Homo sapiens: one gene and its partners. The protein of the gene in region 1 purifies or fractionates together with the protein of each later gene. This does not show direct contact. Each region holds a gene or a part of one and is shown on either strand. Other genes may lie near its edges.

Region 1 (2,732 bases):
TACGACCCGCGTGCGCTCTGCTGTCCTGCGTTCCGGAGAAGGCTGTCTGTGTCTTCCCTGCCTGCTGTCTGCTGGGAGTGCACTCTCCTGCACTGTTTTTCCCCGACCAGGGCCTGGGGTGCACCCCTCACGCAGGAGCCGCTCCCGCCTGCCTCTGCCTTTCTGGGGGGTGGCAAAGTCTCTTTCGCAGCCCTGCCCTCCTCCCTCACCCCCTCCCGAGGCAAAGTTTCTCTGCCCCCAGTGGATTGACAGCTGGCGCAGATGGCCAGGGTCTGGGGCTGGGGGTGAGGCCTGCAGATCACCCCCTTCTGCACAAAGACCCTATGGGAGTGGAGAGTGGAGGGGCCCTATAGGCTTGCGCGGGGATGGAGCCCACGTTTTAGAGGGAAAAGCTGTGGGCAGCGTCTGATGGGCATCCAGGCACCGCCCTGGCCGTAGCAGCAGGTGGCACGTGCTGGCCAGTGCCCTCCTGAGCTGGCCCTGCGCGTACTGGCCAGTGCCCTCCTGAGCTGGCCCCGCGGATGACCAGGACGCTGTGCCATTGGCTAGCCCCTACCTGCCTCCTCTCGTGTCCTCCGGGGCCCCCATGCAGAAGCAAGTACAGACTGTGAAGGGGGTTCTGCAGCTTTATTCACAGGCCCCAGGGGATGAAGGCAGCAAGGACACAGACGCGGGGGACGCCCCGGGATGGCCTCTCCACCCCCAGGACTGTCAGGGAGCCCCTGACAGGATTGTGGGGGCTGGAGGATGTGGAGTCCCACGAGCGGCCCTGGTGTGCAAGAGGGCGGAGGGTCTCTGCCTCGAGGGGCCTTTCTGGCCTCTCTACTTCCAGCGCCCGCCGACTTTGCCCTTGGCTGGGGTCCCAGCCTTCTTGCTGCTGCAAATGGGAAGCAAGTGATCCTTCAGGGTCAGGGCCTCTGGCCATGCCCCTCCTGGTCCCCCACCCTGGGCGGACTCTCAGCCCGACCCCAGGCTGCTCTCAGGGCACAGGCCCGGCCCAAGCTTGCGGCCCACACCCAGCTTCAGTCCGGGCAGTGCCCACTCACCTGTGCCTGGCGGGCCTAGGTCGTTAGTGTGGTTAGGGGGCTGGCACGTGAGCCCGGGGCACCCTCCCTCTGTCCTCCTTTCTTTGCCTGAGGTACCACTGCAGACAGACCCCTGAGCTGGGGAAGACTGTCTTAGCAGATAATGATATAATCCTAGACGCTTGGCCTTGAAAGAGCTCATGCCCCTCCAGACGGTGGCCTCTGAGGGGCCCAGGAGCCTGCCCCATTTGTCTGAGGTCTTCATGTGGCCACGAGCCGGGAGGAGCTGGGTGCGGGTGAGGGGTGAAGGCGGGTGGAGGACAGGAGTGCTTCGGCCCGCGAGGCCGGCCCCATTCAGACGCGGCTGCTCAGCAGGACACCTGGCTGGCAAAGGCCGTGCCCTCACACACGTTCCTGGGCACTCTCGGCACATGCACACATGCACACACGCAGGCACATGCACACCACGCCGACTGCCCACCCTCAGAGGGGTCTGCAATGACCCCTGACGGCACAACAGGGAGGCCGTGAGGTCACGTGCACCACGGAGGAGCCCGCCCTGGGCGCCGCAGGGAAGCCAAGGCGACAGGAGGAGGGAGAAGAATCCCAGAAAACATCGAAACTCCAAGTAGCCCCCAAACACTGCGATCCTTGGGGAAATGGCACTGGCTGTGCAGCTGGGCTCCATGACAGGATCCCCAGCGTGGCATCGCCGGGGGCACCCTGGGTGCAGCCCCATGCAGGTGGTCGAGTAGCTGTGTCAAGGGATCCCACAGCCCCCAGGGACACGATTTTATGGATGAGGTTTCACCATCCTGAGGAGTCCATGATTTTGCCCAGCGTCACAGAGGGGCTGGTGATGAAGCCCTGACTGCTTAATTCCCTGTCCTAGGTCCCCTTGGAGGGTGGGACACTGGCGGGATACCCTGGGGCCCAGGTTGGCCACACCAAAGGCCCCCCGAGTAGCCCCTTCTAGGGGTCCCCTGGCTGCCCTCTCCCTGCAGCCAGTGCCAGACTCGGGGCGAGGGCGTGACAGGCAAGCCCCATTGGGATCCCTCCTCCTGACTCTGCCACCCCCCAGGGCTCCCCTGCGTGCAGGAGAGGGAGGAGGCTCCGGGTCCCTGGCCACAGGCCTGCGCATGCTGGCCTGGGTGGCCTGGCCGGGTTAGTCTCGTTACTGCCCTGCCGAGGCCAGCCACCACCGGCCCTTGTTAGGGACTGGCTACAGCGGCTGGCCCCAAGGGCCCCTGTGCCCAGTGCGGAGCGAGGACGGCAGGGCTACTCACTGCTTCTGGGCCTGGTCAATGCGGCTCCTGAGCGTGGTGATCTGTGAACAACATGAGTGACTCACTGCGACGACCCGAGGGCCAGGCCTGCGTGTACTGGGTGAAGGCCTGTCTCCACCGCAGGGTGGGCTGGGCTGCGCGACCCAGGGCTGCTGGGCCCCCATGAGGGCTCCTCGGCTCCCTTACTGTCTCCTGGCTCCTTGTGCAGGGGGACACCGTCCCGTGGCCCCTGGGCTCATGCCTGGACTTACTCTCGCCAGCCTGTACTGGCCTGGACTGCCACACACAGCAGCCCGTAGCTGGCCACTTACCTTCAGCCTGCGGCAGGATGTGGGGCGGGGGGTACGGAGCACGGATGGGGCTGGGGAGGGGTTGCAGGTGAGGCCTGCGGACCCCTCCTTCTCAGCTCCAGCTCCCTTCA
Region 2 (3,500 bases), on another chromosome or scaffold:
AAGTGATCCACCTGCCTTGGTCTCCCAATGTGCTGTGTACTCAGTGGACCTTTTCAGTCTGGAAACTCATGTTTCTAGGACATTTTCCTGAATGCTTTGATATTTTTCTTTTTCTTTTTTACTCTTTTTTCTCTTTTTGGAAATCCTGGCTGCTGGTACTTTGGGAACCAAGTAGGAGAAGAGGACCAAGGGCTCAATCTTTAATATTTCCTTTACTGAATCACCTTTGTGCCTGGGGGTTCCAGTCCAGAGACCTACTGTTTTATTGTCTGCTAGGGTAAACCTCCAGTCCTCCACCTGGAGGAACAGGGGAGGAGTAGGTCACTGGTGCAGCAGAGGGGTAAGGAATATGGGACTCTGACTGCTTCTTAAGTAGATTTTCAACCCACCTTCACCCCCACTTCCAGAGGTACCTGGTGCCATCAGTTCCTGAGTCCTGAGTACTTTGTAGTTTCTGCAGTGCAGCTTGGTAGCTTTTGTGCTTTCCCTCTACTGGTTTAGAATTCAGTTTCCTTAAGCCTGATACATCAGTTACTTGTTCCTTTGTTTTCCAGCTTTCACAATGTGTTCTGTGTTCTTCTCATTTTCTTTGTCTTTATGGGAGAGAGAGTGGGGATTGAGTTAAATGTATGTGTTCAATCTGCCTCCTTTAACTAAAAGTCCTTGGATCCCTTTCATGTGCATTTTTTTCCATGGTTGAGATCCTGCTGTTCTTCCAGTTTGATATTCAGTTTTTTCACTTAATTTTATAACAAACAATTTCACCGTCATTAAAAATCATTTCTGAATGTTATTTCAATAGCTAAAGTTGCATCATATGGACATGCCACTATTTATACTGTTTGCTTTATTAGTCTGCTATTGTTGAGTATATAGACTGTTTTTTGGTTTTTATAAATAATGCAAAAATAAATAAAGTCATAATATTTTTCTGATAATTCTGATTATTCATTAGGCTAAAGCACGATTTGGCAAACTAGGACTCAGAGTCCACCCCTGGCCCCTTGGCTTGCCATGAACTAAAAATGTTCCATACTTTTTTTTTTTTTTTTTTTAAAGTGACAGGGTCTTACTCTGTTCAGGCTGGAGTGTACTAGCTGTGATCATAGCATAGTGCAATCTTAGACTCCTGGGCTCAAGCAATTCTCCCACTTCTGCCTCCCGAGTAGGTAGAACTATAGGCATGTACCACCATGCCCAGCTAATTTTTAAAAAATTTTTTGTAGAGAGAGAGTCTTGCTATATTGCCCAGGCTGGTCTTGAACTCCTGGTCTTAAGCAATCCTCTCACCTCGGTCTCCCATAGTGCTGGGATTGCAGGAGTGAGCCACCTCCCCAGAGGTTTCTTACATTTTTCAAGAATTGTAATAAAATGAAGAAGAATGTGCAGTAGACCACATGTGGCCTGCAACACCTAAAATATTTATCTGGCCCTTTACAAAATATTTTGCTGACCCCTGGGCTAGAGATTTAGGTAAATACTAAACCATTAAGTAATAATTATAGTATACTCCAGAAAGTTAAAGTATACCTCATGGCTTGCTAGTTTGGATAACTGGTATGTGTGTGACTGCATACTTTTTTTTTTTTTTTAATGCACTTACAAATATATACATGTGTGTCTAGATATTTAGTTTTTTTTTTTTTTTAAATAGGCTTCCTCTATACTCATAGAACCACCACTTAAAACAATATAGAACAGACATCCTACCGTGTTTCTTACATGAGGATCTATCTCATTCTTTTTAATGGCTGCATAGTATTCAATAGTATGGATTTACCATAATTCATGTAATCATTACCAAATTGAGGATATTTGAGTTATCTCCAGCTTTTCACAATTAAAGTAATGCTGTAGTTAACATGCTTTTACATTTATCCCTGCACATTTGTTCAAGTATTTTTGATAATTTTCCAGAAGAAAATTGTTGTGTCAAAGTATATGTACAAAATACATGCTAATTTGCTTTCTAATTTACCCTGAGAGTACCCCTTTTCCATATCTTTTCTAATACTAGATATTATTTGTCTAACTTTTAGCAATTTCTTAATTTTAATTTCCTAATCATTAGTGATGTTGAACGTCTTTTCATGTGCTTACTAGCCATTTACAGTTCTGTAGATTGCCTGTTATAGACATTTCTAAGGCTCTTGACAAGTACAACCATATTTTTTCAAAAAAACAGTTGCTCTCATTTGTATTTCCCCAGGATTGTACAAGAGTGTCTTTGTCACTACATATAAAATTTTGGAAACATTTTGATCTCAAAACTTCTCTCTTTTACTAAACGGTGTTTTGTTAGGCAATTTTCGTTCTGCTCTCAATGATGTGACAGCTGCCAGAAAGCTAAAACCCTGCCACCTCAAAGCAATAATAAGAGGTAAGTCTTGTGGAACTACAGTATGACATTTAAAGCTTTGATATGAAGGTGCTAGGATACTAATAAAGTCATCTTATTTTTGCAGTCTGGGTATTAAGTTCCTGTTCCTTATCAACAGCAACATGCCACTTTTAAAAGAATTCCTCAGAGAGTGACTTAACCCTTTATGTAATAATAATTTGTAGAGAACTAGAAGCCCCTCATTTTAAATTAATAAAAAATAAAATTAATTAAAACAAAGCAGTTGCAAAGCCATATTCTGATTTTTTTTCCAAATTAGCTGATTGAAAGGCAAGGTCTTCAAATGCCATGTTAATGTTAATTAAAAGATAAGTTATGGGACCTTTGCTGATGACTTTGGTGCTGAGATGTTCTCAGATTATGTTTTCTCTTGTAGTCTGACCTTTCTATGTAATAACAGTGCTTTTATTACTTTTATACTTCACCTTTTCTTTGAGAAGCTCATAGGTGCTTTGCAAACTTTAATTTATTCATCACATATTAATCTTCCCTGCATCCCCATGGACCAGCTTAAAATGCTTTTTCAAAATTATGCCTCTTTAAATGTTCATGGTTAAGGGCAGTAGGAAGATCCATGTCCCTCAGCTGTAGGAAAAGAAGGTACTGAACAAAGATTGGCTGATAAATTGAATCTAGGTAATCCTGTGGAATTTGCCTCAGGCTAGAAGTGTGTAATCCTTGATTCAGTTGTTGGTTTAATTTACAATGTGACCTTGGCAAGACACCCACTTTGAATATCAGTTTGCTCATCTCTAGAAGATGGGGTTAGAATCTGTTGGCATCTAAGCCCTTACAATGCTTATATTTTGAAATTCTGTGGAAAACCTAAAGAGGCTAACTGGAGAAAAATGTACATGATAACATGAAATTTTTTTTTTTTTTTTTGATGGGGGAGAGGCAGCTTAAACTGGTAGCCATAAAGAACAAAATTAGGAGACACCTAATGTTTTTGGCCTTGCCACTGCCTTGATGAATAGCTGAAGCAAAGTCTGCTTTTTCCCTCCATTGAAAAAATCATCTGGGATGGACTTTATTCTTCCTGTTTGCAGATGAGGAACCTAAAGCTTGGATATGCTTGGTCCTTTGTCTAAGGTCTAGC
Region 3 (3,732 bases), on another chromosome or scaffold:
TTTCATAAAGATGAATCATATTGAGTTGCCTTTCCTGGTCTTTATTTTGCATAGCTAACCACTTTAGGAAGTGGGGATCGGCCGGGCGTGGTGGATCACACCTGTAATCCCAGCACTTTGGGAGGCTGAAGCAGGCAGATCATGAGGTCAAGAGATTGAGACCATCCTGGCCAACATGGTGAAAACCCATCTCTACTAAAAAATACAAAAAATTAGCCGGGCATGTTGGCATGCCCCTGTAGTCGCAGCTACTCAGGAGGCTAAGGCAGGGGAATCACTTGAACCTGGGAGATGGAAGTTGCAGTGAGCTGAGATCACGCCACTGCACTCCAGCCTGGCGACAGAGCAAGACTCCATCTCAAAAAAAAAAAAAAAAAAAAAAGAAATGGGGATCACTGGGCGCGGTGGCTCATGCCTGTAATCCCAGCACTTTGGGAGGCCAAGAGAGCCAGATCACGAGGTCAGGAGTTCGAGACCAGCCTGGCCAATGTGGTGAAACCCCGTCTTTACTAAAAATACAAAAATTAGCCAGGTGTAGTGGTGCACGCCTGTAATCCCAGCTACTCGGGAGGCTGAGGCAGGAGAATCACTTGAACCCAGGAGGTGGAGGTTGCAGTGAGCCAAGATTGCGCTACTGCACTCCAGGCTGGGTGACAGAGCAAGACTCTGTCTCACCAAAAAAAAAAAAAAAAAAAAAAAGAAGTGGGGATCACCACTCTTCCAGTAGGTTGCCAGATGCAGAGAGTAAACAGGGAACAGTATGCTCACGAGCTTGCCATCTAGCGGGAAACATGTCAACTAAACAACCTGTTAAAGGAAGTTTATTGTTTGAATTTTGTTTGTTTTGAGACGGAATCTCACTCTGTTGCCCAGGCTGGAGTGCAGTGGCACAGTCTTGGCTCACTGCAACCTCCGTCTCCCAGGTTCAAGCAAGTCTCCTGCCTCCGCCTCCTGAGTAACTGGGACTACAAGCGCGTACCACCACGCCTGGCTAATTTTTGGGTTTTTTTGTTTGTTTGTTTGTTTTTTGAGACAGTCTCACTCTGTTGCCCAGGCTGGAGTGCAATGGCGCGATCTCGGTTCTCTGCAACCTCCCCGTCCCGTGTTCAAGCAATTCTCCTGCCTCAGCCTCCCAAGTAGCTGGGATTACAGGTGCCCGCCAACATGCCCTGCTAATTTTTTGTATTTTTAGTAGAGACGGGTTTTCGCCATATTGGCCAGGCTGGTCTCAAACTCCTGACCTCAGGTGATCCACCCACCTCAGCCTCCCAAAGTGTTGGGATTGCAGGCATAAGCCACCACACCCGATCTGAATTTTAAAATTAATTTTAAAAGCCACAATTTTAGAAGTTGAATAAGGAATGGGAGGGTGTCTTAAATTTGTTTAAAAAGCAATGGGCTTGTTTTGCCTCCAAAGAATGTCTCAGAGTGGCTCATCTGTGGTCCTTTAGTAGACCACCTGAGGCCCTGGAGCTTCTGACCTCATCTCTCTGGGAAAGTAGGTGCCAGGACCTGGGTTTCCAGCTTTCAGCTCCAGCAGAGGTGGCAAGCTTGCCTCTCTCCTAAGGTCCCTGGTAAAGAACAGTACCGTTCTGACTGCTTTTGACAAGGCGTCAAGCTCTTGGAGGGGGTGTCACAGGGGCTACTGGCAACTGCTTTGCACTCAGAATGGTCCACAGACCTACAGAAGCGACTCACTGTTCTAGATGTTATCAAGCATCTGTTGACAGTTCTGAGAACTGGAGCAGAAACTTCGCTCTTCCCAGGTTGATTGTCTGTGGTCTCTGAAAGATAGAGAGGCAGGCAGACAGGCAGGTGAGTAGGTATTGATTTATATATTAGATGTTTCGGCCATGGTACCTTCTCTGAATTGCTGATCCTAGTGAGCTCAAGACACAGTTTGTCACTTTAGTATATAGAATACTCCAGGAGCACATGGACGCTTTTTAGAAGTCAGGCTGAGACCCCACGGGCCCGCCATCACCCAGCAAGTCTAGGTTAGACTATGAGATCCTATATTTTTCTCGAGTGGTCCTTAGAACCCCCTGATGCTTAACAGGGAGGCCCCGTGGGTGGTCAGAGAATGCTATCTGTTACTGACCCTCTTCATCTGTGTGCAGGAACAGTTTCTGGTCCCAGATCACACGATCAAAGACATCAGTGGTGCTTCTTTTGCCGGGTTCTACTACATCTGCTTTCAGAAGTCAGCAGCCTCCATAGAGGGCTACTACTACCATAGGAGTTCAGAATGGTGAGGACCTCTGAGGACAGAGGCCACGGGGAGGGCTTGCTGCCCAGCTGGCTCTCCCTTGGCTCATCAAACCCAAAAGCAACATCTTAGCCTGTCTCTGTATAGATTCTGTGCTTTATTTGGATGCTGAGAGCTTATTTCAGTGATCTCAGTTGCTCACAATAAGGCCTTATCCCTATGCACAGAGCAGAGTAAATGAGATGAAAATGAATTATAGGTGAAAGAACTCATTTCTAAGCACTTTTAAGCAATACTGTATTTTTGGCAATGTTTATCTCAATCTTGCTGGTTTTTATTTAATCCTTGCAAATTGAATTAGTAACTAAAATGTGAATTGATCCAGTACTGGACAATGTGAATTTTGCTGTCAGCAGCTTTTTAAATTTTGTGGCTGCATTCCTTAGAGTTGGTCCGACATGCACTTGATTTAAGGCTCATGACCTGGGGGCCTGTGAGTGGACAGTCCTGTCCAGTGTGTCACCAATAGTAAAGGACTGAACTCTGCCTGAATGCTAACTTTTGCCACCTTTTGAGGGATTCTCCTGCCTCCTTGCTGCTTTTTAAGCACCTTGCTGTCCCCGGAGGGCAAACCATGTGATAAAATGCCTGATTTCCTCTCTGAAGGTAAAAATTCTTTCTTTCCAGTATTTAACACTTTGTTATATGTGAAGTGATCCTACCCTAGATTCCTTGTTCAGTGGTAACGAAATTATATCTGCAAGTAAATGCCAGCCCTGTAGCCACGATTTTTAGGCTTTCAGTAATGGTTTTCACGCAAGTTTGTAAAACTTTTATAATCCTTTTTAAAAATAACAGCTGGCCGGGCACAGTGGCTCACGCATGTAATCCCAGCACTTTGGGAGGCCGAGGCGGGTGGATCACGAGGTCAGGAGATCGAGACCATCCTGGCTAACACGGTGAAACCCCGTCTCTACTAAAAAACAAAAAATTAGCCAGGCATGGTGACAGGCACCTGTAGTCCCAGCTACTCGGGAGTCTGAGGCAGGAGAATGGCGTGAACCTGGGAGGTGGAGCTTGCAGGGAGCTGAGATCGGGCCATTGCACTCCAGCCTGGGCGACAGAGCGAGACACCATCTCAAAAATAAATAAATAAATAAATAAATAAATAAATAAATAAATAAATAACAGCTTTGGTCCGGGCACAGTAGCTCACGCCTGTAATCCCAGCACTTTGGGAGGCCGAGGTGGGCAGATCACGAGGTCAGGAGTTCGACACCAGCCTGGCCAATATGGTGAAACCCCGTCTCTATTAAAAATACAAAAATTAGCCAGGCGTGCTGGTACGCACCTGTAGTTCCAGCTACTCAGGAGGCTGAGGCAGGAGAATCACTTGAACCTCGGAGGCGGAGGTTGCGGTGGGCCGAGATTGCACCACTGCACTCCAGCCTGGGCGACAGAGTGAGACTGCATCTCAAAAAAAAAGTGTACAAGTCAGTGATCTTTCCTATATTAATAGAGTT

Evidence for each region.
Region 2: the proteins of TNNT3 (region 1) and TTC4 purify together in Homo sapiens (co-immunoprecipitation; one large-scale study listed by IntAct). This does not show direct contact.
Region 3: the proteins of TNNT3 (region 1) and GID4 purify together in Homo sapiens (affinity purification with mass spectrometry; one large-scale study listed by BioGRID and IntAct). This does not show direct contact.

The regions. Positions count from the first base shown.
Region 1 is NC_000011.10:1,936,583-1,939,314, reverse strand, and holds the end of TNNT3 (troponin T, fast skeletal muscle), read right to left. Parts: intron 2,353-2,732; coding exon 2,312-2,352; intron 878-2,311; coding exon 823-877; 3' UTR 613-822; downstream 1-612. UniProt on the Homo sapiens protein: Troponin T is the tropomyosin-binding subunit of troponin, the thin filament regulatory complex which confers calcium-sensitivity to striated muscle actomyosin ATPase activity.
Region 2 is NC_000001.11:54,718,861-54,722,360, forward strand, and holds part of TTC4 (tetratricopeptide repeat protein 4), read left to right. Parts: intron 1-2,302; coding exon 2,303-2,380; intron 2,381-3,500.
Region 3 is NC_000017.11:18,059,725-18,063,456, forward strand, and holds part of GID4 (glucose-induced degradation protein 4 homolog), read left to right. Parts: exon of another isoform or gene 1-24; intron 25-2,120; coding exon 2,121-2,251; intron 2,252-3,732.